2 separate regions of the Homo sapiens genome follow, and region 1 is linked to region 2. Evidence: fine-mapped expression QTL. A gene starts in region 2. The other region holds a variant in brackets. All regions are shown on one strand. Distances are between the middles of the regions.

What was found.
Region 1: its variant is fine-mapped to the expression of GPR137B in whole blood (TOPMed, PIP above 0.99).

What each region holds. Positions count from the first base shown.
Region 1 is chr1:236,199,160-236,216,476 of GRCh38, forward strand. It overlaps GPR137B (G protein-coupled receptor 137B), which reads left to right. Exons shown (of 7, transcript NM_003272.4): 6 at 5,967-6,091; 7 at 8,891-9,748. The coding sequence ends at 8,999. ERO1B (endoplasmic reticulum oxidoreductase 1 beta) reads right to left here. Exons shown (of 16, transcript NM_019891.4): 16 at 15,942-17,317. Among named protein-coding and RNA genes, the nearest start is that of GPR137B, 65 kb to the left of the region's middle. The variant C/T (reference allele first, on the strand shown) is at 8,195.
Region 2 is chr1:236,134,294-236,147,952 of GRCh38, forward strand. GPR137B (G protein-coupled receptor 137B) reads left to right here and starts at 8,246. Exons shown (of 7, transcript NM_003272.4): 1 at 8,246-8,743. The coding sequence starts at 8,330. RefSeq lists silencers at 7,985-8,164, 8,235-8,504 and an enhancer at 8,470-8,973.

The sequences.
Region 1 (17,317 bases), 67 kb after region 2:
TGATTTTTGTTTTTAATTCTGTTTATGTGATATAGCCCATTTATTGACTCATGTATGTTAAACCATCCCTGCATCCCTGGTATGAAACCCACTTGATCATGGTGGATTATCTTTTTGATATGCTGTTGGATTCAGTTAGCTATTAATATTTTGTTGAGGATTTTTACATCTATGTTCATCAGGGATAAACATAGTTTTGCTATGTCCTTTCCTGGTTTTGGTATTAGGGTGATACTGGTTTCATAGAATGATTTAGGGAGGATTCCCTCTTTCACTATCTTTTGGAACGGTTTCAGAATAAGATTGGTACCAATTCTTCTTTGAATATCTGATAGAAATTAGCTGTGAATCCACCTGGTCCTGGACTTTTTTTGTTGTTGGAAATGTTTTTATTGCTGTTTCGATCTCGCTAGTTGTTATGTTCAGTTTCTATTTCTTCCTAATTTAATCTAGGAGGGTTGTATATTTTGATTTTCTAGTTTCTGTAAAGGTGTTCGTAGTAACCTTGAATGATCTTTTGTATTTCTGTGGTATCGGTTGTAATATCTCCCATTTTGTTTCTAATTGAGCTTATTTGGATCTTCTGTCTTCTTGGTTAATCTCACTAATGGTCTATCAATTTTGTTTATCTTTTCAAAGAATCAGCTTTTTGTTTCATTTATCTTTTGTATTGCCTTTTTGTTTCAATTTCATTAGTTCTGCTCTGATCTTTGTTATTTCTTTTCTTCTGCTGGGTTTGGGTTTGGTTTGTTCTTGTTTCTCTAATTCCTTGAGGTAGGACCTTAGATTTTCTATTTGTGCTCTTCCAGACTTTTTTGATGTAGGAATTTAATGCTGTCAACTTTCCTCTCAGCCCCACTTTTGCTGTGCCTCAGAGGTTTGGGTAAGTTGTGTCATTATTATCATTCAGTTCTAAGAATTTAATTTCCATCTTGATTTCATTGTTGACCCAAAGATCATTCAGGAGCACATTAATTTCCATGCATTTATATAGTTTTGAGGGTTCCTTTTGGAGTTAATCTCCAATTTTATATTCCACTGTGGTCTGAGAGAGTACTTGATATAATCTCAATTTTCTTAAATTGATTTAGACTCATTTCATAGCCTATCATATGGTCTATCTTGGAGAATGTTCTATGTGCCAATGAAAAGAATGTATATTCTGCAGTTGTTGGGTAGAATGTTCTGTAAGTATCTGTTAAGTCCGTTTGTTCTAGGGTATAATTTAAGTCCATTGTTTCTTTGTTAACTTTCTGTCTTGATGGCTTGTCTAGTGCTGTCAGTGGAGTACTGAAGTACCCCACTATGGTGTTGCTATCTCATTTCTTAATGTCTAATAATAATTGTTTTATAAATTTGGGGGCTCCCATATTAGGTGCATATATATTTAGGATTGTGATATTTTCCTGTTGGACTGATCCTTTTATTAATAAATAATGTCTCTCTTTGTCTTAACTGTTGATGCTTTAAAGTCTATTTTGTCTGATAAAAGAATAGCTACTCCTGCTTACTTTTTGTTTTCATTTGCATGGAATATCTTTTTCCACCCCTTTACCTTAAGTTTATGTGAGTACTTATGCATTAGTTGAGTCTCTTGAAGACAGCAGATACTTGATTTGTGGATTTTTACCTAGTCTGCCATTCTGTATCTTTTAAATGGAGCATTTAGGCCATTTACACCCAACATTAGTATTGAGATGTGAGACTGTTTTATTCATCATGCCAGTTGTTGCCTGAATACTTTTTTTTTTCATTGTTTTATAGGCCTGGTGAGATTTATGCTTTAAGGAGGTTCTATTCTGGTGTATTTTGAGGTTTTGTTTCAAGAATTAGAACTCCTTTTAGCATTTCTTGTAGTGCTGGCTTGGTAGTGGCAAATTCTTAGCATTTGGTTGTCTGAAGACTTTGTATCTTTTCCTTCATTTATGAAGCTTTGTTTTGCTGGATACAGAATTCTTGGCTGACAATTATTTTGTTTGAAGAGGCTAAAGATAGGACCCCAATCCCTTCTGGCTTATAGGGTTTCTCCTGAGAAATCTGCTGTTAAACAGCTTTTAAAATTCTTTCCTTTGTCTTGACTTTAGATAACCTGACTGTGCCTGATCATCTTTTTGCAATTATTTTCCCAGGTGTTCTTTGAGCTTCTTGTATTTGGATGTCTAGATCTCTAGTGAGGCCAGGGAAGTTTTCCTTGATTATTCCCTCAAATATGTTTTCCAAACTTTAGATTTCTCTTCATCTTCAGGAACACCAATTATTATGTTTGGCCATTTGACATAATCACAAATTTATTGGAGGCTCTGTTCATTTTGTAAATTCTTTTTTGTCTTTGTGGATTGGGTAATTGCCTTGTCTTCAAGTTCTGAAGTCCTTTCTTTTCTACTTGATTCTATTGTTGAAACTTTACAGTGAATTTTTTATCCTCCAAGTGCGTCTTTCATTTCCAGAAGTTGTGACAGTTTTTTATTATATCTGTTTCTCTGGAGACATTTTCATCCATATCTGTATTTTAAAAAAGAGTACTTAAGTTGGTTTTCACCTTTCTCTGGTATCTCTTTGAGTAGCTTAATAATCAACCTTCTTAATTATTTATCTGGCAATTCAGGTATTTCTTCTTGGTTTGGATCCATTGCTGGAGAGCTGGCATGAGCCTTGTTATAGAACCTTGTTTTGTCATATTACCAGAACTGCTTTTCTGATTCCTTCTCATGTGGGTAGACTATTTCACTGGAAAAATCTGGAACTCAAAGCTGCTGGTCAGATTCTTTTGTCTGGGTGGTTCCTTGATGTGGGTTGCTTCCCCTTCTCCTAGTGATGGGGCTTCCTGTGAGCCAGACTGCAGTGATTGTTATTGCTCTTCTTGGTCTAGTCACCCAGCAGGGCTACCGGGCTTTGGACTGGTGCTGGGGAATGTCTGCAAAGAGTCCTGTGATGCAATTCATCTTCAGATCTCCCAGCTATAGATACCAGCACCTGCTCCTGTGGAGGTGGCAGGGGATTGAAGTAGACTCTGTGAAAGACCTTGGTTGTAAGTATGTTTAGTATGCTGGCTTTCTTAAGTGCTTTATGCTAGCAATGAAGTTGCCACCATGGACAGACTCAGGACCACTGTTTAGCCAGGATGTTGGAGGCAGTAGAATTAGCTGTTGTTTTCTCCTTCCTTGGAGCAGGGGATCTGTCATGAGTTGCTGTAATGTCCTGAGGTGGTTGGCCTCCAGCCAGGAGGTGGCACTTTCAAGAGAGCACCAGAGTTTTTCACCTGTCTCTCAGAATTTGCAGTGGCCTGCCGCTTCTTTCCAAGTGTCTGTGAATTCCTTCAGTTTTCCTGGTATGCTCCTGTGGTGGTTCCTGGAGCAAAAGTCCATGGTGTGACTCTCCACACACTGTTCTGTCTGTCCAAGTGGGAGCTGCATGTAAGCCCTATCTCCTATCCACCATCTTCCCCTCAAAGTATTTATATGTAAATAGAATAGATGAACAGAATCTAGATCCAGATGCAAATCTGAAATCCATTCCCTGCCTGTTGAACTTTCACTTCTTCAGGAAACAAATTCTCTGCTCTTTAGCCCCAAACCTCTGCCATGATGGCAGTGCCCATAGGGACACTCTCAAGAAATTTTTGCCCAGACCCATGTCTTGGCGATATTCCCCAATGTTTTCTTGTAGTAGTTTCACAGTTTGAGGTCTTAGGTTTAAGTCTTTAATCCATTTTTTTTGATTTTTGTATCTGGTGAGAGATAGTGGTCTAGTTTCATTCTTCTGCATATGGATATCTAGTTTTCCCAGCACCATTTATTGAAGTCTTTTCCCCAGTGTATGTTCTTGGCAGTTTGTTGAAAATGAGTTCACTGTAGGTGTGTGGATTTGTTTCTGGGGTCTCTATTCTGTTCTATTGGTCTATGTGTCTGTTTCTTTTCTTTCTTTCTTTTTTGTTTTGAGACAGAGTCTTGCTCTGTCGCCCAGGCTGGAGTGCAATGGCGTGATCTCGGCTCACTGCAAGCTCCGCCTCCCAGGTTCACGCCATTCTCCTGTCTCAGCCTCCCGAGTAGCTGGGACTATGGGCACCCCCCATTTCGCCCGGCTAATTTTTTGTATTTTTAGTAGAGATGGGGTTTCACTGTGTTAGCCAGGATGGTCTTGATCTCCTGACCTCATGATCTGCCTGCCTCAGCCTCCCAAAGTGCTGGGATTACAGGTGTGAGCCACCATGCCTGGCCCTATGTGTCTGTTCCTATACCAGTACCATGCTGTTTTAGTTACTATAACTCTGTAGTGTAATTTGAAGTCAGGTCATGTTGATTCTCCCAGTTTTGTTCTGCTTAAAATAGCTTTGGCTATTCTGGGTCTTTTGTGGTTCTGTATAAATTTTAGGATTGTTTTTTCTATTTCTGTGAAGAGTATCATTGGTATTTTGATGGGGATTGCATTGAATCTGTAGATTGCTTTGGGTAGTATGGCCATTTTAACAATATTGATTCCTCCAATCCATGAACAGAAAATATTTTTCCATTTTTTGGTGTCCTCTTCAGTTTCTTTAAATGTTTTATAGTTTTCATTATAGAGCTCTTTCACTTCTTTGTTTAATTTCTAGGTATTTGTGGCTATTATAAGTGGGATTACTTTTTGTTTCTTTTTCAGATTGTTCACTCTTGGTATATAGAAATGCTACTGATTTTTTGTGCAACTTTACTGAATTTATTAGTTCTCATACTTTTTGTGGAGTCATTAATTTGACTTTTTCTATTCCAATTTGGATGCCCTTTCTCTTGTCTGATTGCTCTAGCTAGGACTTCCAGTACTATGTTTAATAACAGTGGTGACTGTGTGTTCCACATCTTAGAGGAAAGGCTTGTAGTTTTCCCCTATTCAGTATGATACTAGCTATGGGTCTGTCATATATGGCTTGTATTATGTTGAGGTATGTTTCTTCTTTCCCCGGTTTGAGGGTTTTTATCATGAAGGAACACTGAATTTTATCAAGTGCTTTTTTAGCATCAATTGAGATGATCATATGGTTTTTATCTTTCATTCTGTTAACATGATGTGTCACATTTATTTGTGCTATGTTGAGCCATCCTTGTATCACATGGATAAATCCCACTTAGTCATGATGAATAATCTTTCCAATGTATTGTTGAATTTGGTTTACTAGTATTTTGTTGAAGATTTTTGCATCAATATTTATCAGAGATATTGGCCTACAGTTTTATGTGTCTTTGGTTTTAGTATCAGGGTAATACTGGCCTCCTCCATGAGTGTAGAAGTACTCCCTCTTCCTCTATTTTTTTTGGATTAGTTTGAGTATGACTGACATTAGTTCTTCTTTAAATGTTTGGTAGAATTCTGCAGTGAAGCCATTGGGTCCCAGGCTTTTCTTTACTGGGAGACTTTTTATTATGGCTTTGATCTCTTGCCTTTTTTCTCCTTGTTACTAACAGTGAAAGTCTTTAGAAAACCTTAAGAGAGCTCTGAAAAGAACCCTTGTTTTAGGGACAGAAGAACTGAAGAAAAGCTGGGAGAAAACATTGCTTTCTCAGTGGATTAGGGAGCAGAGAAATTCTAGTTAGGTAGAATAAAAGACTTGTTATTGGTCTGTTCGGGTTTTAGTCTTTCCGGTTTAGTCTTAGTAGGCTGTATGTGTCTTGGAATTTGCCCATTTCTTCTAGATTTTACAGTTTATTGGCATATAGTTACTCATCATCTAGCTTTTCAATAAGGGATTAAAACAATGATGACTCACTGTTGCAAGCAAGACTCTGATAGAAGACTTTGCCCATACTGATAAAAGGCAAGGCGAATCCCTCTCAAACATAAGAGTAACTGAAATGAATATTCCAGCTGAACAGATATAGCCTACATTCAAATGAATAGAACATCTTTAGTCTCCTACAAGAAAGAGATCTTATTTTTGTCTGGTGCAAGGCATGATGTCTGTAAGTATGCTGAATGATTACCTGTCTTTCTAGACCAACCCTGGAATGGTCCCCAGCCATGGATTCAGTCCCAGATCTTATTTCTTTGACAACCCTCGAAGATATGACAGTGATGATGACCTTGCCTGGAACATTGCCCCTCAGGGACTTCAGGGAGGGTAAGACCCTACTTCATGTTAGACAAGCCTCATCAGGAGGGAAGGGTTACACCAGTTAAATAGATTCAAGCTAAAAGAAAATTCCTACGTTAAAACTGTGCAGCCTTAGGTGGTATAAGACTGGATTCTCAGTAGATCATTTTACTTATGTGAAACATTCAGGAATGAGAAAGGACATCCGGTTTTTTTAAAGCCCCATAGCATTATTGTATACAGTAGTGTTTCCTAAACAATATTCCATGAAACACTATTTTCTTAATAGTTATGCTGTGCAAAAGGAAATGATAATCAACTTTTTTATTTCTTGGAGATAGGGTCTCACTCTGTTGCCCGGCTGGAGTGCAGAGTGGTGCAATCTTGGCTCACTGCAACCTCCCGCTCCCAGGTTCAAGTAATTCTTGTGCCTCAGGCTCCTGAGTAGCTGGGATTACCGGTGTGCGCCACCGCACCCAGCAAATTTTTTTATTTTTAGTAGAGACGGGGTTTTGCCACGTTGGCCAGGCTGGATTGAACTCCTGGCCTCAAGTGATCTGCCCACCTTGGCCTCCCAAAGTGCTGGGATTACAGGCGTGAGCCACTGCACCCGGCCAGAAAAAAAACTTTTTAGAAAATGCCGAGCGAGCCTGTAATATGCTAATGTGTGCTCTGAATCTCCAAGAGGGAAATACAGCACTTGTCTATGGAATCACTCAATGGAACATGATATCTTTAATCACATGTTCTAAAGCTAGAGAGTAAATGCAGTAGTATTTATTTATTAGAATAAATTATACATTATAAAGGACCAAGTTTTCAAATTTGAATGATGTCAGTTCTTAATTTAAAATTTCATTTACATGAAGGGTATTTATTTGGTCTCAATTTTCATGAATACTTATTTAATAAATACTTCTATAGCATCTACTCTGTATCAGACACTGTTCTAAGAGATTCACAAATATCAACTCATTTAGTCTTAACAGTCCTGAGAGGTCAGTACTATTATTAGCCTCATAATACAGATGAAACTGAGGTATCTAGAGGGTAGGTAACTTGTCCAAGGTCACACAGCTAGCAAGTGATCAGGCTACAATTCTAACTCAGGCAGTTTTGTTCAAATTTGTTTTCTGAATCACCATACTATGTAAACAGTTTGTATATAAGTACCCTGTCTCTTAGTCTCACCTACGCTTATGTTATACTTTCACGTGAGTTTTAATAGCAGGAGTCTCCTTCCTTGAATCTACATGCGGATCTGGCCCAGAAAATGTGGAAAGGGCAGTTAAATACTGAGAGTTCAAAGCAGCATACATAGAGGGTGTAAGACAATACATGAACTACCAGTCCGCTGCCATCGCCTAATCTTCAGTGAATTGGGAAGGCAAATAAAAAGAGGGAAGCACCTGAAATTGCAACCATAGCAGAGATCCACCCCAGGATTCCAAGTTTTGCTTACCTCAGCATGGGCATGGTCTGCAAACAGGAAGGGTAGTTGCTATTGGGATTCCCTTCCCTTTTCCTCAGCCTGCTGTGCTCAGCCATACTCCACTACCCGATGACTATCATGTTTCCCCTTTCAGCCTGTGGCTCTGAGACGGTGAGGCCAGCAGGGGTGAGAGGAGCCAAAAGGGCTGACATAGTGCCTGCCAAGCCTGTCTTCTCTCTGCTTGTCCTCTCAGGACCCCCATCCTGTTCCTGGGAAAGGGGAGCTTCTTAGAAAGTGAAAGGTTATCTTATGTAATCTTTTGTAAGATTAAAGACTTAGCATTAACAACTTTACAACTTTTTTCCCTCTGGGATGAAATGATAAAAAATATATGCTTGCCTTTTTACTCCTTGTTAGTAACAGTGAAAGTCTTTAGAAAACTTTTTAAGAGAGCTCTGAAAAGAGTCCTTGTTTTAGGGACAGAAGTACTGAAGAAAAGCTGGGAGAATACATGCTTTCTCAGTGATCGGGGAGCAGAGAAATCCTGGTCAGATAGGATAAAAGATTGTCGCTGAGAAAAAAGAAGAAAGCTGCCCAATGCGCTGAGCCAGCAGATGTAAAGAACGTAAGCTGGAAGCAAGCCAACAAACAAGAAGGACTTCTTGAAGTCAAAAGCTGTCCTTTGGGTCACTCAGATT[C/T]TGAGCTCCACCTCTTCCTTAAAACTGTTCTTTTCCAGTTACCCCACTGCATCTCCTATTAGTTGCTTTCCCCTTTAAACCCATATTCTGCTAGAGCTGTCCCACCCTCTCACCTGCCAGAAATGACTTAGAGCTGAGGGAGTCCTCACTACCGATATGGTGAAGACAAGACCCCCTTTCTACTACATAGAGGAACATAATTATAATGAAAACGACTTACGTGTATTGAGAATTAACTATATATTAGACACTGTTCTAAGCACTTTACAGATGTTAACTCAGTCCCCACAATAGGCCCACGACGTAGTTACTAATATTACTCCCATTCTAAGATGAGGAAATTGAGGCATAGAAGTTACTTGTCCAAAGACACCACCACAGGTTGTGAGCTGTACTCCATGTTAGGATTCAGATGCAGTTTGTTGCTGAAAACATTTCCTATGCATAGTGACTGGCTGGGTTCTCTAGTCATGCTGTATACTCTGTGCTCTAAAGAGTTCAGTAGAGTTGTCGGTGGGCATTTCAGCCCTGTGTGTAGCATGGTTTTGTGGGAAAATGGACTTTAAGAGCCATTTAAAAGAACTTTAGAGTTATCTATAGTTTACACAAAAATCTCAGCTCTGTCTACCTAAACTAGACTATGTCATACATACTATATAATGTTTCAAGTCACTGAAATATTTTTTTCTTTTTAAGTTTTGCTCCAGATTACTATGATTGGGGACAACAAACTAACAGCTTCCTGGCACAAGCAGGAACTTTGCAAGACTCAACTTTGGATCCTGACAAACCAAGCCTTGGGTAGCATCAGTTAACAGTTTTATGGACGATTCCTCAGATGAAAAGCTTCAGAAAAGCATAGTGACAGCTGAATTTTTAGGGCACTTTTCCTTAAGAAATAGAACTTGATTTTTATTTGTTACAGGTTTCCAATGGCCCCATAGGAATAAGCAATAATGTAGACTGATAAACCCTTATTTTAGTACTAAAGAGGGAGCCTTGCTATTTCAGTGGGTATAATTTAAACTTTTTAAAGAAAATCTGTACTTTTATAAAGATGTATTTTGTATAACTTAAATAATAATGCTAAAGTATACTAGGGTTTTTTTTTCTTGAGAATGTTACTGCAATCATGTTGTAGTTTGCACAGACTTTTATGCATAATTCACTTTAAAAATATAGAATATATGGTCTAATAGTTTTTTAAAGCTTTTGGACTAAAGTATTCCACAAATCTTACCTCTTTAGGTCACTGATGGTCACTCCGATTCTGAGTGCCACATTGGTAGACTCCTAAAATACAGTTGACAACTTAGCCAATTGCAACTCCAGTGTTGATAATTAAAATGAAATGGTAAAGCAGCAGACTGTAAGGTCTTTAGAGATTTTTTTTTTAAGGTTCAGGCCGTAGGTTCCTCAAGGAATCTCTTAAGTTTTGCCCAAAGACTGGTACTTCCTTTCAGTAGGGCGCTAATGTATACACATTAATGATAAGTTGATAACATTAAAAATGTAGCTGACTTATCCTATTAAACCTCCTCTGCTATGTTCACAGATTCTGCATAGTTTTTTTTCAGCCTAATGAAATCTAATATGCATTACCTCAGGGCCACATCAAGAATACACCCCTTTCCGAACTCACTGAATGTTCATTACATTCAAGGAGAAAATAAGAGGGTCCATAAAGGGCATTAATAACAAATACCCCAAGCCGTTGAGCTAAGACTATGTGGAATCCTAATAGTTTTTTCCGTAATCTCCAACTATATTTAAAATAATGCCCTTCTAAATAGCTCTGTAAAGAGCCTATTGGAAGCTGCACATTTAAAAATGGCAATAGCACTGCAATATGCTGTAGCATGATGCCTGTCAGCCATGTTCCAGACAATTCCTTGTAAGTCATCTTTCATTTAAGTAAAAAACAGGTTATGAAGTACTGCCTCCCAGACCGGAAGTGCCATTCTAAAAACTCCACTATATATATCCTGGAGCCATAAAACTGCCTATTGGGAGGCTAAATGCTCTGCTTTTCTATAAAACAGAGATAAGGTTCTAGAGGAAGTACTGTTACCAGAAACAAGGCACGTTTCTTCTCTGCCTAGGAATGCTCATCTGGGGACAGAGGGAAGGTTCAATGAAAAGGAACTTATATTAACAAGTCCTACTACATGATGCAACCCATTTCAAATGACTCCTCTCATTTTGATCTTCAGGAATAACTGATCTCTGGGCATTGATTTCACAGATGAAGTCTACTATTGTTTTGGTAGTATTTAAAATTGGGATCTCAAGTTTCAAATTGATCATCATTGGGCTTTTCATGTGTATAGAACACCTTCACTCTGCATAATCCTACATAACAACATTCTTGTCTTCTAGTACATGAAAAAATTGGGGTAACATAGCATTTAAAGTAGTTATCAGGGAAAAGTCTATACTGAAGTGAACCCTACACTGTTATTCAAGTTGCCTTAACACATTATAAGCTATTATTCTAAATAGCTTTAACAGATTATTGTGGTCACACTGTATTACTAATAGTTAATTTAAAGGCAGACTCAGCATGTTTTAAACTCCTTTAAGTTACATCTTCAGAAAGTCCTGAAGTCCTTCAGTATTAGGTCAGCTAAGGGAAGATATATTTTTAAAAATAGTGATAAGACTATCACTAATATCATACTCATCCTGTAATATGTAAACACAGTTCTGTTGTTACTGGCAGAAAAATTGGAATACCCAGCATTAAGTGAGAGAAGTCAGCCTACTTTTATGATGAAGCTACTGGGATTTATTTGAACTATTATTTTTGTTAGATAGTATAAAAATGTTCTAAGTGCCTATTTTTCTCATTCCCCTTTTAAAAATGTAATGCTAAAATTTCTAGAAGTGTTGTAAACACGGAATACAAAAAAACTATGATTGATTACTCAAACTCTCCTTCCTTCTTAGTAAGGAAAATTAAAATTCCCTTTGGCTTTCTAATTTACTTGTTCTACTAGGTACACTAACAAAACTACTTCTGGCTGGGCGCGGTGGCTCACGCCTGTATCCCAGCACTTTGGGAGGCCGAGGCGGGAGGATCACAAGGTCAGGAGATCTAGACCATCCTGGCTAACACGGTGAAAGCCCGTCTATACTAAAAATACAAAAAATTAGCCGGGCGTGGTGGCGGGTGCCTGTAGTCCCAGCTACTTGGAAGGCTGAGGCAGAAGAATGGTGTGAACCCAGGAGGCGGAGCTTGCAGTGAGCGGACATTGCGCCACTGCACTCCAGCCTGGGCAACAGAGCAAGACTCGGTCTCAAAACAAAACAAAACAAAACAAAAAAACTACTTATGTGGAATATTAAATGCTAAGAGGAAAAGGAATGGTGATTACTGGTTGCAAAATACCCAAATGTCCTCTTGTTTTAAAGCAACACGATGAAATTAAAGCCCTGATGATTAGAAAGTTGAAGTATATGGGGAAGAGGGAATCACTGAAAATTTTGTGCCATCATTTAGCTAAGTCTGATGGAACACTGAAAAGTTTCATGTGAACGTTTCTGGGTAACTGTTGGAAATAGTTTCTCTGACTATTGGAATAGGTGTCTACCTCTGCAGCTAATTGTCTAAGAATATTGTATAGATATTTTTCATTGGTTCTTTACCCTTTTTACAATGAACTCAGTTGAGCTGCTGATTAAAACATCTAGGGTATGTTACAGAGTTGTGACTGTAAGAAGGTTTGACTATTACAATATACACATCAATCATATTTATACCAATTCTCTCTTGAATGTATCAGGCAAATTAAAAGCTTTGCTGGTTAAATTTAGCTACTTAGATAAGGCACACTCACTAATGCCTCCTCAAATTTCCTCTTTCACCAAAATCCAAGTCAGCTGCTCTTTGTTGACCTTAGTGCTGGGCCAACACCTAGTTGAACACTTAAACCTTATTAAGAAGAAAGGAATACATATTAGTAAACCCTAGAACTTGAGAAGCACTGTGAGAAAAAGGTTCTCATATTTACATAGTGGATATTACTTGCTTTTATCTTTTAACAGTAAAGGTAAACTTATATTAGAACTAAATGGGTCTAAATATTTGAAACTTTTATCGAGATTTCCAACTAGACAACCTTTATCTAAAAAATACCATTCTTTCACTTTAGATTGTTGCATGAGGAAGAGACTAGCATAGATCTGATCAGAGACACATCTAATATGCATTCCCAGTTTTCATCTTATATGAGAATTGTATTAAAGGACATTTCTAACTGTATACTATCATGCTACTTAAGACATGGGTCCAGATGGAGGAGCTGCTGAAAAGGATCAGGCTAAAATTGGGGAATTTGTCTCATCAAAAAGATTCAATTAATAAACGGATTAAAGTGAGGAAACATTTAACAAGGAACAGTGAGGATAAGAGAGTGGGATTCAATGTCTATTCAGTACCTATTATATGAGAGACGCTGGACTAGGCACTCGTCACGTTTCTGTGGATCCTAGTCTATACTCAGGAACACCCACTTATTAACGTTACTCTAGGCCCTTAGCAAGGATACATAAGAACTCTTGCACCAAGGGTCAAAATACATTGAAGTCTTCTGAGGATGTCCCTGTGCCCATAACCTAGATCTGTGTCAGAGTCCCTGTACCTGTTGCCCGGTTCCTATGGGCCAGGGCACTGATACTACATGCCTTCCGTGTGGAGTTCTGAGATTGGCTGCCCAGGTCATTAATTATGGGTTCAGGGTTGTAAGATCTAAATCCAGTGACTCAGCAACTCCTAATGACATCTACCTGGTTCCTCCAAGTCTGGATTCTCTACCTCTAGTCCTTGAGCTATGGCTGGACCCTGTCTTCTGTTTTCTCAAACTGATTAACATCTTGCTAATACTAATTCTCTAGCTCCAAACCTGGTCTGCCCTTTTGGACCTTGGATGTCCTACCACTCAAAATATTAGACTATGTCCAGAACAGATTTTCTGCCCCTGAACTTAAGTGGAGATCAGATGCCTATAAGATTCCCAAAATTGCCCCCTTTTTCTATTGATTCCTGTTACTATGACCTTTTCCCCATGAATCGCGCTAACCTACAACAGTCCCTCCAGTCTCTTGGCAGGCCCAAGTTACAGTGCTCCTTGAACGGATTAACTGCATTAATGGATTAGCATGCATTTATCCTAAACAAATAGTGCTTTACCAGGGCCATTAAATATGTGTAACTTAGTATCCTTTGAGTGCTATCTCCTTGGTGAATTCACTAGCCAAGAGTCTGGGCTCCAGGTTTGCAGGTTTAAGCTCATTAAAGGGAACAGAACACACACCCATTTGGAGGTATATTCTATGAAGGAAAGCCATAGCAGAAGTTAAATGATACCAGAATGTTGCTTGGAATGTTAACTCCGCTCTGACCAGTGTTAGGGGAATGACTTTAATTGATTAATAGCATCAATCTATGACAATCTGATGGCATTGTCAAGACAACACTAAGATTCATTCATGTTGAGGACACCTTCTGCACTAGATGGGTGTCTAGTTGGCCATTTCCCTTTGGTTGATGTATTTTTTCTTTTGGTGCATTCTCACTACAATCTAGGTAGGTTATAATGTCTTAAGTTATATGATGGCAGGAATGTTTGTCTGTTTTGTTCACTGCTATAGTCCCAGCTCCTATAACAGTGAATGAATAGTCAAATCCTGTTTTTTGGTAGATGTCTGCTTTTTTTTTTTTTTCCAAAGTAACTTCTTGTACTTGCACTTTTATCCACATATTGATTTTACAAGTTTAGTACTTATTTAAGGGTCTCTCCCTCTTGTCTTATGAATCTTTGACAGATATCCAACTTTTGGGCAAATAATTCGTAATGGAATAAAAAAAGAAATAGGGATTTTACATGAGAACAGTCCTTAAATCATTCCTAGAGACTATCTTAAAATAGAAGCACTGAGATGACATTCTTTCCACACAGGCATTGCATCCTGCCTCTATCTGCCATCACCTGTTTGGGCACTGCCAAATAGAACACTGTAATAATTTAAAAGTAGTAAAAAGTGTATCTTTATCAGGTAAAGTATCAAAAGAACAGTGACAAAATAAGTGGTTAAAAGTGCAACCCTTGGGAGAGAACTTGAGTTGGACAGTTTTAGTATGCTCTATATGTTAAGAATTTTTTAAAGCTCATATGGAAAAATAAGAACAGTTAGAAAAACTGTTAAAAAAAAAAAAGGTGGGCAGGGGAGGAATGAGGGAGGACCAATGCACTAGATTAAAACTAAAGCCTGGGTAATTAAAACAATGTGGTACTAGTGCATGACTAAATAGAGCAATGAAATAGAAACAGATACAGAGAAACAGAAGCAGATACACAGCTAAATACATATGACGGATTCTAAGATAAGATCAATGTAGCCTCTCAAACTCGTCAGGAAAAAACAAACAGTTCAATAAATAATATTGGAACAACTGGGTTAATCACCTGCGGAAAAAATTAGGTTAGATCCATAACTTATATCTTATGCCAGAATATGCTTCAGAGGTTCAAAATTTAGATGTAGAATTTAGGTGAATTACTCTATTGCTCTGGATTGAGAAAAACATTCTAATTATGACTCAAAATCCAGAAACCACTAAAAAAACTGGTAATTCAGACTACATAAAAATTTTTTAAAACTCATGACAAAGCCATCATAAGCAAAAGACAGATGACAAATTGGAAAGAAAATATTTGCAACTCATTACTGTCAAAGGGTTCATATCCCTAACAAATAAACAACATATCAACGATATAGTAGAAAAATGGATAGGAACAAAACAATATGGGAAACAAAAGGAAATACAAATGGCTCCTAAACATATTAAAAGGTGGTCAACCTTAGGCATAGTAAAAATTTACATACTGAGCAGTCAGGTGTGTGGCGTGCACCTATAAGCCAGGCTATTCGGGAGGTTAAGGCTGGAGGATCACTTGAGCCCACGAGTTTGAGGCTACGGTGAACTATGATCATACCACTGCACTCCAGCCTGGGTGATAACGTGGGACCCTGTCTCTTTTTTAAGGAAAATAAAAGAATGTACACATTGATATAAATTTTCATCTACCAGAATGGCCAGAATCCAACATTTTAATAACATCTACATTGGTAATGTTGCAGGTTAGCAAGTACTATCATAAATTTTAGATGGTATGTGAATTGATGACTACCCCTATGAAGGACAATATGCCAATATCTTTCAAAATTATAAATGCACACAGTCTTTGCCCCCAAAATTCTTATCTTTGGGAATTTATTCTACAGGTACAATATTTATATAAATGTGAAATGACATATGTACAAGGTCTGGAAACAACCCAGCTGCCCATTAATAGAGGACGGGTTAATTCAACACTGGCACATTCACATAACAGAATACCAAGTATCTACTTCAAAAAATGAGAAAACTATCTAGTCATATGTGAAGACTGCCAAGAAATACTAGGTGAAAAAAATGAAGTCGTATGTATATGATGTCAATTTTTGAGTAAAAATGAGAGAAAAAATAAGACTTTCCATTTGTATATGTTTGTACCTGTCTACAACAGTGTGAATGGAAACCTAAGAAACCAAGAGCACAGGCTATTCATGGTGGGAGATGAGTGTGCAGTGGAGGAAGCTGGGCCAAGGACACAGGAACACATTCACTGAATAACTTTTTATATTGTTTGTTTCTTTTAACCATGTGAATGTATTACCTATTCAAAAAATTAAATAAGATAAGCATATTTTATAAGCTTTATGATTCAATACAAATCAAACAATGCTTTTAATTGTTCCCACTTTGTAGCTGAATGGAAATAGGCCAACTTACAAAATGTCACAAAGGTTCTAGAATCAGTCTTTCTCGTCTCAAATTCTTGCTCCACAACCTAGAATTTGTGACTATGGACAGGTTACTTAGCCTTTTTTATCCTCAGTCTTCTTACTTATAAAACAGAGAAGTAATTGTACCTACCTACTAGTGCTATTGTGAAGATTAACGGTGTATTCTTTTAAAGCCAAACTATGCATGTAAAAGCCCTTAATACAATGCCAGCCAATGCTTGCCATTATGATAAGAAACAACCTCAGACTACTTATAAATACATTTTCTCCCTTCTCCACAGGTTACAATCAAATTCTCATGCCATAAAAAGAAACACTTAAAATAGCGGGGAAAAACAAGACAGAAAAGATTGCAGAAACATGTACTTTAATTCACATTTTCTAGATTCTGGTGGGTACAACAGTAAATTATTTGGAATTCTGTTCAAAATCAAAGCTGCACCTGTAGATATTCCTTAAAATACAGTACACATAGATTTGTGTGTGTGTTTTTTTACCAAATAATTTCCACGATACCATGCACCTAATCTGTGTATTTTGGTGAGTAGCTATGGTTTCTGCAGGTACCTCAGTTTGCAAACTACTGAGAGGTTTACTGTGAACTGTTCCCAAATTTTCAGCTGAAGGCAATGCTGATGAAGATCAAAATAGCTGTCCTTTCTTATATACAGTGGCACATAGGCAAAGTTGAAAAACATGGCAGAGTTTCATATACATACAGAGATTACAAATATCGAATAATTCACAATGTTAAAAATGTCAAAATAAAACGTTTTGACTTATCAAATTTCAAAAGTGTGGAGTCTTATTCTGTCTGATCCTCCTCATAATCTAAGAATCAAAACAGGAGAAACATTCAAAGTTTACCAATTTTAATATATAGTTTGTCTAACTTACATAGATGCCACTTAAGTAAAAAATAAACTTACGCCATTGAAGGAAGGAATATTTTCCTTTTCTTCATTTTCATTACTTCATCAGTGGGTACAATCATTTCTGTCAGTTATATTATCAAGTGCTGGGTTTTTAAATTAGGTGATGAGATAAAGACAAAATGCCAGAGCACCAGCAAAGCATTTTTACAATGCAAACAGTACTCTAGTATAATATCACTTCACGACAAAAGATGTGAATTGGAAAAACAGTTTAGATCACAAGAACCATAAAATGTCACCAGGCTCACACAATCATTTAAGAAATAAAAACACATACACAAAAATGTAGGCTGCCCCTACAATCTAATTTATGATAAAATAAGATGAATTTCAGCCT
Region 2 (13,659 bases):
TAGGGGCAGTGATATTATTCTAGAACCAGTCCTGCAGCATCACTTTGGGTATCATTCCTTCTTCTTAATCTCCAAGCTCCTCCAGCACTCTTGGAGATTTTGTGAACCACATAATGTGCCTTTTAATGAATTCTTTTTCTGCTTAAATTAACCAAATCTTACTTCTGTTGCTTGCAACCAAGAACTCTGGGAAATATAGAAATAGACACCGGGAGTATTGGTAGCCACATACTCTCAGAGAATGGTGAGAATTTGAGCTTGGTTATCTGGTCTGGTTGAGCTGGAGGAAAATGAAAATTCAGATAGTGTTAAGACGGTTCATGGCATAAATTGTCATTTGTGGTCACTTGCGGTAAAGGTAACCCAGGACAATGAAGATTCCATTGACATTAAAGTTTTCAGAAACAGAGTGATGCTGCTAGACAGCAGTATGAGGGACACAAAGAATTTAAGAGCTGTGGGGAAAAGTGGTTGATTCTAGCTTGAGAAGCAAATAGCAAGGGCTGAAATTCTAGTTCAAGGCACACAGTCTGAAAACCTAGGACTTTTGATGACTTTCAATGAAGATGCTAAAAGACTATTTTATCTTTTGCGACCATGGCCAAAAGGGAGAGCCTGTGCATTTCTGGTTGGTTTTCTTTATTTCTTTCTCTCTCTTTTCTTTTCTTTTCTGACAGAGTCTCACTCTGTTGCCCAGGCTGGAGTGCAGTGGCGCGATCTCGGCTCACTGCAAACTTCGCCTCCCGGGCTCAAGTGATTCTCCTGCCTCAGCCTCCCAAGTAGTGGGGATTACAGGCACACACAGGCACACACAGCCACACCCAGATAATTTTTGTGTTTTCAGTAGGGACGGGGTTTCACCATGTTGGCCAGGCTGTCTCGAACTCCTGACCTCAGGTGATCTTCCCGCCTCAGCCTCCCAAAATGCTGGAATTACAGACATGAGCCACCGCACTGAGCCAGGTTTCTGATTTTCAACATCTGTTGAATGCACAGCCTTCTCTGGTCTCTTATGTGATAGTTCGGGGACTGATTGGAAAGAGTTGGAATCAGGGGATGGAGAATGGGGACAGATGGGACTAAGGACTCAGTGCACAAAGCTCCCCTTATCACAGAAAGCAGCCCTTTCTCTCCGTGTGAGGAGGCTGTTCCTGCCTTGCTGGAAGAACTATGGTTCTTGCCTGAGGAAGTCAAGTTGCCTTGTGTCTCCCACTTCTCATTTTCTTCAAAGACAGAACTAGATACCAACATATCCCTCATTTTATAAAGCCAACCCTGGATGGAGAATTACACACCAAAATAACTACAAGACTTTGCTCTTTATTCTGGAAAAAAAGTCTTCAGAATACATGTGGGAATGGATTTTAAGGGTGCTAAACCAGAGTAGGAGGCAAAGAACATTTGTTTACCAAGAGATTCTAGTTCAATATGCTTCCTGGAGCAGAGGGAGGGGTCTGTTTGTCTGGTTCATTGGTTGAATGAAACCTGGAATTGATGGCAGCCCACATCATTCAAGAGAAGCTGAGAGGTCTGAAATTATCAAGCATAATGTAGAAGCAGGAATCCCAGGAAATAGGAATGTTGCTGTGGATTTATTGTGCAAATCCCACTCACCAATCCCCTAACTGGTCCTGGAGAGGGACCAGAAGACACTCCCTTTGTCAAGGCACCGAGAGAGACACTGGTGAGAGAAGTATATCTCAAAAGTACTGTCGTAGCTATACTCTGTACATCAGGGATGCTATTGAGAGCGGCTGGAGATGAATGGACTCCCTCATGTTTGCCAGGATCCTGGGTGCCAGAGTTCAATGGCAGCACAACCACCAGTAAGGGAGAGGTTATCCCAATAGAAGGCAAGATGATCATGACCAGTCTGAGAATGGCCAGTCTGACAATCAGAATTGCCTGCACATCAAAGATCTTTGGCAGAAACTAATTGAATATGAGCTCTTAGGACAAATGAGATGGGCGGTCCTCTGTGGACCTGCTTAATATAGTTGACAAAAGCAAAATAAAAACTCCCTAGATCTGAATTAAACCATCCCATCAGAGAATGTTGTACCCGCATCCAACTCTCAGACCTGAACTTGGATGCCAAAGAAGTGGTAAATTCCTAATCCCAGCTACTCGGGAGGCTGAGGCAGAAGAATCGCTTGAACCCAGGAGGCGGAAGTTGCAGTGAGCCAAGATTACGCCACTGCACTCCAGCCTGGGCAACAGAGCGAGACTTCATCTAAAAAAAAAAAAAAAAAAAAAGGCTGGGCACGGTGGCTCACGCCTGTAATCCCAGCACTTTGGGAGGCCAAGGCGGGCAGATCACGAAGTCAGGAGATTGAGACCATCCTGGCCAACACCATGAAACCCCGTCTCTACTAAAAAAAAAATACAAAAAAATTAGCTCGGCATGGTGGCGGGCGCCTGTAGTTCCAGCTACTCAGGAAGCTGAGGCAGGAGAATGGCGTGAACCCAGAAGGCGGAGCTTGCAGTGAGCCGAGATCACGCCACTGCACTCCAGCCTGGGCGACAGAGCAAGACTCTGCCTCAAAAAAAAAAAAAAAAAAAAAAAAGGCCGGACGGAGGGGCTCACGCCTGTAGTCCCAGCACTTTGGGAGGCCGAGGCAGGCAGACCAGCTGAGGTCAGGAGTTCAAGACCAGCCTGGCCAACATGGTGAAACCCCGTCTCTACTAAAAATACAAAAAAATTAGCCAGGCGTGGTGGTGGGCGCCTGTAATCCCAGCTACTCGGGAGGCTGAGGTAAGAGAATTGCTTGAACCCGGGAGGCAGAGGTTGCAGTGAGCCGAGATCGCGCCATTGCATGCCAGCCTGGGCAACAGAGCGAGACTCCATCTCAAAAAAAAAAAAAAAAGAAGTGGTAAACTCCCATCACTTTTTCATCTAACTGTTCAGTTGGTACACAGATGGAGGGGTCTTGGAAAATAAAACAGGTAATCATAAGCTTCATATGGTGGTGACTTCAATACAGCAAGCCCACACAGCCTCTGGAGGAAAATGGTTTTTTTCTCATTCCCAATAAGTGAAGAACTCCAAAAGCCACTTTGTCTCATCTAGTAAGGATACTTTCCTATCTCCTTCAGGGTTAGGTCAACTCTGGCTTCATGCCACAATTTGGTCTTCAGAACTCTTAATCATTTTAATGTTTTTTGGACATCACAGTGATACTATATTAATGACATCATGCTATGAGGACCCACAAGGCAGAGATGGCAGTTATTCTAGGCATGTAAGAAACATGTAAATCTCATGAGTCTACAGGGGCCTGTGACCTCACGGAAGCATTTCAGGGAGTCTAGGTTGAGATAGCTCCTCCAAAATGAAGGATGAGATATTACAGCTGACACCGCCTCCTACAGGAAGCAGAAGCGTAATGCTTTGAGGTCCTATTTATGGAAGCAATATTTGTCACATTAGTGGGCTTCTCTGACCCACTTATGGGGTGTCTCAAAAGGGAGCTAATTTTGAGAAGGGGCTCAAGGCAGAGGAGATGCTCCATTTGGTTCAGGCTGCAATGCCATCTGTTTTGTCATCCATGACTCCGTGGATCTAACGGTGCTCAAAGTGTCAATGGCAGATTGGAGAGGTGTACATTACCTGTGACAAGCCCTGTTAGGAGAATCACAGTGTCAGTTATAAGGGTTTGGGAACACATACATGCCTTATTTGTCAAATAACTATTTTTCTTTTGAGAGAAAGAGATGGCTTGCTCCTGGGCTGTGGAAGAGACTGAATGTCTCATCAAGAAGGCAGATTACCATGGAGTCTGAGCTGCCCGTCTTGAGCTGCATGTTATTTTGATCCATCAAGCCACCAAGTCAGGTTCCCCAAAACACCCAGCTCTACTGGAGGCTCTCAGCATTCAGGTGGACATGTCTACCTGCCCTGGGTATGGAAGACATCTTCTGTCCCCAGTTAGCCCACTGCTTATTCAATGGGCTCATGGACACAGTGACCATGCAGGCAGGGACTGACTGATCCATTTTGTAACAATCTGGACTTCCCCACCAAGGCTGACCTGGCTTTTCATGAGTATCGCCAGCCAACTCTGAGCCTTTCAAGAGGTTTCAAACTCAGGGGAAGTCCTAGACAGCCACCTGAAAGCAGATTATATAGACCTCTTTAATCACGTAGGATATCAGCAATTTGTCCTTGCTGTAATAGACAATGTTTCTGAACTTGGACTGACTTTCTTTGCCTCCTGTGCCTGCGTTATTGTCCCGGGACTTTCTGAATGCATTGCTCATCATCATGGTATCCTATACAATATTGCTCTGACCAAGGACCTCACTTTATACTAAAAGAAGAAACGTGGTAGGCTAATTTCTGTCCCTCAAGTAGCAGCTGGCCTTATCCAGTGGTGGAATGACCAATTGTAGGCTTAGTTATTGTGCCTGCAGGACAACAATGCACAGAAAGGTAGCATTGGTGTCCTATAATATATAGAATTTCTTCTGAACCCAAAGCTGACATATCGTGCTATTTGTCCTGCAGTCAGGATACATGGCTACAGGAACCAAGAGAATGGCACCTTTCACTAACACTCAGTGACTTACTTGCAAATTTTTTTGTTTCCCGTTCCTTCGCCTCTAGGCTTGGCTAGTTTGAAGGTCTTAGTAACCAAGGAGGAACTCTTCTACCCCAGGAGATTCAAGTGTGGTTTAAGTGAAATAAAAGTTGAGACCCTGGCTATTTCAGACTCCTCATGCCAGTGGGTGAATTGTAAAAAATAGTATGATGGTGTTGGCTGTGATGACAGTAACTATTAAGAGGAAGTAGAGTTGCTGTTATATGATGAGCAATAAAAGGTGAATAGACAGAATTCAATCATGGTAGTGCCTCTTGCTGCTGGCATGTCCAGTGGCAAACATTAACAAGCTTAGATTCCTCAGAAATCAGGGCTACCCCTGACTAGCTGAGATCCCTGATGAAGGGAAAGGGAAATTTTGTAACGTCCATTAAGGAGAGCAATTACAGCTTTATGACCAGTCAGAAAAACAACAACTCTAACTTATATTTTTTTCTTGCTGTGTCATATGTATGTATTTTATAAATTGATGCAAAAGTAATTGTGGTTTTTGTCATTACTTTTAATTGCAAAAAGCCACAATTACTTTGGCGCCAACCTAATAATGAATTCTCCTTTCCTTTACATTTTTTTCTTCTACTATTTTATACAGGACAAACTAGTGATGGATAACTTAATAATTTAGTCCGTAAGATACAGAATGTTGAGATGAGATGGTGACAGAATTGGAGGAATGGCTATCACCCAGAGCTCCTGGGCTTGGAGCTGGACACAGAAAATGATGATCCTTTTGGGGGAAAGAGGGAATGTGTTTTTCTGTTTTCTTCCTTCCTTCCTTCCTTCCTTCCTTCCTTCCTTCCTTCCTTCCTTCCTTTCTCCTTCCTTCCTTTTTTCCCCTCCCTCCCTCCTTCCTTCCCTTCCTTCCCTTTCTTCCCTTCCTTCCTTCCTGATGGAGTCTCACTCTGTGGCCCAGGCTGGAGCTCAGTGGCGTAATCTCAGCTCACTGCAACCTCCGCCTCCTGGGTTCCAGCGATTCTTGTGCCTCAGCCTCCCTAGTAGCTGGGATTACAGGCATGTGCCACCACACCCGGCTAATTTTTGTATTTTTAGTAGAAACAGGGTTTCACTTGGTTGGCCAGGCTGGTCTCGAACTCCTGACTTCAGTTGATCCACCTGCCTTGGCCTCCCAAAGTGCTGGGATTACAGGTGTGAGCACCTGGCTTGGAATGCTTTTCAATTGTACAAGGGTTATTAAGTGGGAGCATCTTTATTGTATTTTCAGAATTGTAAAGATGATAAGAAACATTTGACACTAGGTAGTCAAAGAGGTGAACTGTTGTAGCCATCTGGCATTCTTTTTGTCTGCTTTGAAGTCATGATAAAGATGCTAGTTTTTCCTAAATCCATTCGCCCCTTCATCCATAATTACAGAACCATGGCTTTCAGCTGTGTACAATGCCACGTGGACTAAAACTACGTTTCCCAATCTCTTGTAGCCAGCTTGCTAGGGTAATTAAGTCCTAGCAATGAGCTAAAAGTGGATGCATTATGTGGTCTTTCTGGGAAGGCTCCAGAAACAGGAGAAAACAAGTGCTCTTTAGTCTTCCCCTGTTCCTCCTAACGCTGGCCTGGGATGTGGACTCAATGTCTGGAGAGCCAGTAGCCCTCCTGGATCATGAGGTAGAATCCATGCACACTGGAGGGAGAAATATCAGAGTCTGGACCTCTGTTGACAAACAATATTCCTTCAGTGTAATAAAATGTATACGGATGCTTTTCCAATGTGCCAGGGGAGAGACTGGTAAACAAGCCTAGTTTCTATCATAAGGACACATAAATAAGTGTGTTGCGGGGGAAACTAACAATCAGGCAAGGATATTAGGGAAGCACACAGGTGAAACACCTAGCCTAATCCTGAGAGTTTGGTGGGTGGAGAGTTCTGGAGAGGCTCTCTGCAGGAAGTTACACCCTCATGGATAGCTAGGAAGGACCAGCTGTTGGAGGAAAGGGCAGAATTTTCTTAGTCTAGGGGAGTCAGGAGGTGTTAACACTGCTTAACACCTTGGAAGAGATAAGGCAGGGAGGTAAGCTAGGGTAGGAGTTTAGACTCTAACCCCAGAACTATGAGGAGCAAGGGAAGGGCATTTAAGCACGGGAGTAAAGTGGCCAGGTGTTCTTTAGAGCGATCATTCCATCATTCCACTTGCGCTGTTCAGAACGGGGATTGAGGGGAACGAGATCAGAGGCGTGGAGCCCAATTCCGTATTTCCTCTTGAAATAGCGATAGGGAGAGAGGGAAAGGATAGAAAAACTGGAAAAGGAGCTCCACGCCAAAGGCACACTTGGCCCCAGTGAACCACCTGGAATACGCTGGGAGCGCTGTAACCACTAAGTAATTCTGAGCAAAAGCTAGGGTGGATTCTGGATATGCCAGGCCGTCTTTTGGAAAAAGAACACACAATTAGGCACGAAGTGGAGTAAGAAAAGAAATCACAATTACTGGAGCCTCGGAAATCCGAGTTTCTTCTGTTTACCAGAACCGCTTGCCCAGCAATGTTTCCAGAGGGCGCCCGGCTTTCCCTCTTTTCCCAGAGCACTCCCCAGCTCTCCCAAGACAAGGGTGGCGTGGTGCCCCGGGGCAAAGACTAAGTCGCTGTACAGCCTCGAGGAGCGAGCTGCTCAGCAAAAGCAAAAGAGAAGGGCTCTCGGGTGGCGGGGACAGACCCTCCTTCGGCATGGGTTGGATCGGACAAGGGGGGCCGTGTGCCGTCAGCTGCCCCACTTCTCTCTGAAGCCCAGTGGGCTCCATCCACTGACCCGCGGCCCGCGCGCCTCCCGGCACCGGCTACATCGCTGGGAGGTGAGGCGCTGGGAGCGCGTGAGGCTCTCCGGGAGAAAACAGCCCAGCTTGCATCCCAGAGGAGGCAGCAGCCGCAGGCACCGTCTATTTCCTCACTCAGTATACAAATTTGACCTCAAAAATACGAACCCTGTCTTTGGCATGTCTGCATTTAGAAATAAACATCATTCCAGACGCCGGCCAGTTCATAGCCACAGAGTCGTAAAGTTTTATTTTTAAAGGGGGGGACGGAAAGGACTTGTAAAGTTTTTTTTTTAAATTTGTTTTTAAATAAAGGAATTAACTTCTGCAAAACAAGCAATCAGCAGCAGAATGCGCGAGGCCACGAGTGCGATCCCCCGAGGCGCGGGGCGCGGCTGGGAAGTTTTGGGGGCGCGCGGCGCGGTGCCGGGACCGGGGAGGAGGCGCGCGGTTCTGGGGGCGCGCAGTGCGGGAGCGCGCGGCCCCGGGGATGGGGAAGGGGCCGGGGACGGGTAGCGCGCGGCCCCTGGGATGGGGAGGGGGCGGGAAGGGGGGAAGAGACGCGGGGCTCTGGGGGCCCGCAGTCTGGGAGCGCGCGGCCCCGGGGATGGGGAGGGGGCCGGGAGGAGGCGTGCGGCTCTGGGGGCGCGCACTGCGGGAGCGCGCGGTGGCGAGGATAGGGCGGGCCGGGGTTCGCGGGGCGAAGGCGCGCGGTGCCCGGGGGAGGGCGGGCCGGGGCGCGCGGGCCGGGGCGGGGGCGCGCGGGCCGGGGCGGGGGCGCGCGGGGCCGGTCGGCGCGCGGGGGCGGCGGGCGCGGCGCTGCCAATCGCAGACAAAGGCCGTCCCAGTGAATCATGTGGTGCCGGGGGAGGAAGTGCGGCTTGTTTTCTTTCCTCCAGTCTCGGGGCTGCAGGCTGAGCGCGATGCGCGGAGACCCCCGCGGGGGCGGCGGCGGCCGTGAGCCCCGATGAGGCCCGAGCGTCCCCGGCCGCGCGGCAGCGCCCCCGGCCCGATGGAGACCCCGCCGTGGGACCCAGCCCGCAACGACTCGCTGCCGCCCACGCTGACCCCGGCCGTGCCCCCCTACGTGAAGCTTGGCCTCACCGTCGTCTACACCGTGTTCTACGCGCTGCTCTTCGTGTTCATCTACGTGCAGCTCTGGCTGGTGCTGCGTTACCGCCACAAGCGGCTCAGCTACCAGAGCGTCTTCCTCTTTCTCTGCCTCTTCTGGGCCTCCCTGCGGACCGTCCTCTTCTCCTTCTACTTCAAAGACTTCGTGGCGGCCAATTCGCTCAGCCCCTTCGTCTTCTGGCTGCTCTACTGCTTCCCTGTGTGCCTGCAGTTTTTCACCCTCACGCTGATGAACTTGTACTTCACGCAGGTGAGTTTCAGAGAGGCTCCTGGAGGCGCTCACCTGGCGGGGTGGTCCCCGCGGGGCGCCCGAGGCAGGGGCGATGGCAGCCGCGGGGGCGGGTCCGGCCCTAGGGCTGAGAGTGTAGGGAGAAGGCGCCGGCTCTGGGGTCGTCCGAACCCTGTCCTGTTTGCGGGCATTTGTCATAGGAAACCCCCTGCCATTCCCAAAAGGGGCAAGGAGAAGGCAGGGGAGGGCTGGAGGCCGCCGCTCACTCGCTGCCCCTGGCTCCGCATCGTGCGGTGGATTCGGGGCGCTTCTCCGTGCGCAGCGCGAAGCAGCAGCGCCTGCACACGCCAGTTAGTACGGATGGAAGGTGTGCCCCCAAGGGAGGCCTGAACTCTAGAATTTGCCCTGCCTCCCCAGGCACCTAACTCCCGGCCTGGAAAGGTCTTCTGCACGTTGGCCTCCAGATTTGGGCCTGACACTGCTGTTTTGAGCGTTGGCAGGGTGAGACCATGTTGGTTTTGATGAGATGTTTTGAACCTCCGGCTTAGGAGCTCTACAGAACTGCGGCTTACTAACTCATTCCACCGGATTGCTAAACAGCAGGCTGGGGTAACACCCAGCTCCGAGCTGCTGCCGCTCATCAGAGTTACTGTCTGAGCTCATCTGAGAGGCCCCAAGAAAAGGCCATAAAAGCTGACTGGGGCTCTTTTACAGCCACACAAAAATCACTTTATGGGGCATATTATTAAATAAGCTAATGGGAGAGTATGTGAATTAACTTGGCTGCTGCTTTACTGCTGATGGTTGACTTAATGAAAGTGCAGTAATTGTTGAGCACTTTGCAAATACTTTGTATAGCGTTGCACAAAGGTTTAATAACGCGGTGCCGCCGTCATCATCGTCATCATCATCTCTGATTCCCATTAGCTTTCCAAGCACTAAGATGTCCATTTTCACTAGGACTCTGCCGAAGGGGAAGGCGTCAACGGTGTCACCTGGTGAGGGTAATTTCAGAACTGTCGGATGGGCAGAAACCCTGTGCAAGCAGGCATCTCATTCCTTTTAAGTGTCTTTTTTTTTTTTTTTGAGAAAAAGTCACTTATTTAAAAAAAGAAAGAGGCCGTATGCGGTGGCGCATGCCTGTCATCCCAGCATTGTGGAGGCGGAGGCGGGAGGATCGCTTGTGTCCCTGAGTTTGAGACCGGCCTGGGCAACATGGCGAAACTTCCTCTCTACAAAATGTACAAAAATTAGCTGGGTGTGGTAGTGCCCGCCTGTAGTTCCAGCTACTCAGGAGGCTGAGGTGGGAGGCGGAGCCCGGGAGGCGGAGGTTGCAGTGAGCAGAGATTGAACCACTGCACTCCAGCCTGGGTGACAGAGCTAGATCCTGTCTCAAAAAAACAAACGAACAAACAAACAAAAAAAACAAAGTAGGAAAAGGATTGCTCTGGTACAGTGGAAGCCACTGACTGAAAATATGGAAGAAGTACTTTTGGCTAAAAAATAGCATATGTGATATTTTGTAGATAGTATAATCTTTTAAAAATGGGTCTACACTCAGACTTCTTGTAAGTCCAGCGCATCAGCATATTTTCCGGTCGGAGAGTAATGCGTATTGCCTGTCCAAGTACAACCTTTAAACCTGCAAACCAGTTCAGGCAGTCGGCTGCATTGCACAGACACTTGGGTTTTGTAATTGAAATGAGGTGGTTCTAGCAAGATGCAAAAGACAGGTGAGGTGATGTTACCCTAAGAACTGTGACAATGGTGGTATTGCACGTTGAGCTCTTTATATTTGTCCCCTTTTTGGGGGGCAGTGGGGGAAGAGGAAAATGCAGGGAACTGCCACAGCTCTCTGGTAATCACATGCAAATTCTGAACTTAGAGCCGGATTAGGGGCCGGGCTGCACATTTTCTGCACCATCTGCTGGTTGGTGAGTAAATGCTGAGCAAGGGAAACAGTGACCAGGCAGACAGAGCCACTCCGGCCCAGGGGCCCAAAGTCACGGCCCTGTACTCTTTATATCTCCCAGGTCTGCGGGCACCACAGCAAAGGCTTTTCGCCTGAGGGCACAGGGTGGCTGGCTGGAGAAGGTGGCATGTCTCCATCTCTGAGTGCTGGCATCTCAGAGCCTGGCAGAACAAAGCCATTTCTGGCTTAGTGACAAAACTGTGATACTTCTGGGGAGTTATAAAGCCTTTTGTCGCCAACCCAGCTCTGCCTCCCTTCTCCTCCTCTCCCGCTCACCCCCTCTTTCTCTTACACAAACCATTGGAATTACCTAAAGTGGGGAGCTTTAAGAATGACTGTTGCTTGGGCCCCCATCTCAGACCAAGTAAATGAGATTTTTGGAGAAGGGGCTGACAGCTAACAATTAAGAAGTATGTTTAAGAAAGCATACTTTCGATCTCGGCTCACTGCAGCCTCCGCCTCCCGGGTTCAAATGATTCTCCTACCTCAGCCTCCTAAGTAGCTGGGACTACAGGTGTGTGCCACTATGCCCAGCTAAGTTTTGTATTTTTAGTAGAGACAGTGTTTCACCATGTTGACCAGGATGGTCTTGATCTCTTGACCTTGTGATCTGTCCACCTCGGCCTCCCAAAGTGCTGGGATTACAGGTGTGAGCCACCGCACCCGGCCAAGAAAGCACACTTCTAAGCAATTGGTTATATTTATTTTTACCAGAACTCTCTGAAGAAAGTACCGGTATTGTCCCCATTTTCCAGAGGAGGAAACTGAGGCTGAGAGGTCGTAGATGACTTGCTCAAGGTCACACTGTCAGTGCATGGTGGAGCTGGGATTCAACACACATCTGTGCTGTCTGAGTGTGAGGTTTGTCTTTTATGTACAGTATGTGAAACCTCTTTTTATTTTATTTTTTGAGATAGAGCCTTGCTTTGTGGTGATCTGGGTTCACTGCAACCTCTGCCTCCTGGATTCAAGCGATTCTCCTGCCTCAGCCTCCCGAGTATCTGGGATTACAGGCACCTGCCACTGCACCTGGCTAATTTTTGTATTTTTAGTAGAGATGGAGTTTTGCCATGTTGGCCAGGTTGGTCTCAAACTCCTGACCTCAAGTAATCTGCCCACCTCGGCCTCCCAAAGTGCCGTGATTACAGGTGTGAGCCACCGCGCCTGGCCATGAAACCTCTTAACAATGGGAAAACATACCCAACTCTAAATCTAACCTCGTGTTCTCCTGGAGCGCAAAATCAGGTTGCAGAGAATCAAAGTATACATACAGCACAGTTAAGGCACGATTTGCGGCACTGAAGGGAATGGTTATTGAAGCGTCAGGAGACTTGAATGAGACATGAGTCCTCTGAGAAGAAGCAGGTGTCTGGAGGCTGAAGCTGGGTGGGGAGGAAGAGAGGATGGTGGGAAGGAAGTCGTGGGGGCAGTTTGGGAATTGGGAATGAACTGGAAGGAGAGGTCCGAGATGGGGAGGAAGCTTTTTTCTGTTGTTGTCAGTCCTTTGTGCTTTTGCAGGGTCCCTGTACCTGGGCCTTACTCATCTCACCCTCCCTGGTGACCCAGAGGGTACTGTTACCCCCCAACTGAGGCTCGGAGGGGTGAGAACACTTGCCCACACTGCCCCGTCCGAGCCTCCGTGCAATGCACACGATGCTGCAGTACGCAGCCCCGGCTGCCCTTGGGTACACATCTGAGGGTAATGCGATCATGAGCAAGCTCAATTTGATTAACTTACCCCTAAATCACTGCTTTTAAATTCTGCCATGTTAAGTCTCTTTCCACCCCTAATGACCTCTCAGGCAGATCCTATGGCTTTCTAGTCATACTCGGTAATTATTATTATTTTGGAGTCTGGCTCTGTCACCCAGGCCGCAGTAGTGTGATCTTGGCTCACTGCAACCTCCGCCTCCCAGATTCAAGCAGTTCTCCTGCCTCGGCCTCCTTAGTAGCTGAGATTACAGGTGTGCGCCACCACGCCTGGCTAATTTCTGTATTTTCAGTAGAGACAGGGTTTCACCATCTTGGCCAGGCTGGTTTTGAACTCCTGACCTCAGGTGATCTGCCTACCTCGGCTTCCCAAAGTGCTGGGATTGCAGGCGTGAGCCACTGTGCCTGGCCCATACTCCTTTATTAAATCTTTACGTCTGATTTAAAGCTTCTCCCACACTGTCCAAGGCCAGCCAGGCTTCGAGCTGCAGGGCTTGGTGCAGAGGGTGTGCCCATGCTCTCAGCCTCTCCCCTTCCATCTTCCCAGGCAGCCCAGGGGAGGGGCACACTCTCTCGTGACTGCCAGCGTGTCGGCCTCTGGTCTTGCTCTGGCGCCGCCTCTGTGGGTAACTGCCACGTGGCCATGTTGACATGATGGACTTCAGCTTCTTCCTAGCCCCATCTTTGGTCTCCCTTCCATCCCAATTCCTTCTTCAGGGGGCAGCCACATGGCTTTAGGCCCCTTTTCGAAAAGCCCTTTTAGGGCTTTTTCTTAGAAAGCCATGGGATCACTGAGGCCCCTCCACTCCCACTTGGCCACATGGGTGACAGGCTGGATGCCTAACTAGCGTCTTCAGGACCCTGCACCTGGCTGCTTTTCACTCCTTGCGTGCCTAGGGGCCCTCCCACCTGTAAAAATCCCAGGTGGAAGCAAGCATCACCCTCCAAGTGCCTGGTGCCTCCAGATCACCAGGGCACAGGTCAGGCTCCACCGGGACTCCACCTGCAAACAGTCCCAGCTCAGCAAGCATCTGCCCGGGCCCCCTTCCTGCCCAATCCCTGTGAGCAGTGTCCATGTGTCTTTCTCCTTTCTGACCTGGGGTGAGGTGCCCTGCTGGTAGCAGGCTGTTAACTCTTTTTCTCCATCTCCACTCTCCACCTTCCAGTTCAGCCTGGGAACATGGGGAGGCGGCTGTGGTAGGACTGGTTCTGCTAACTCTCTCCGGGCCGTCTGTATGCAGTGTCTGTCTGGCCC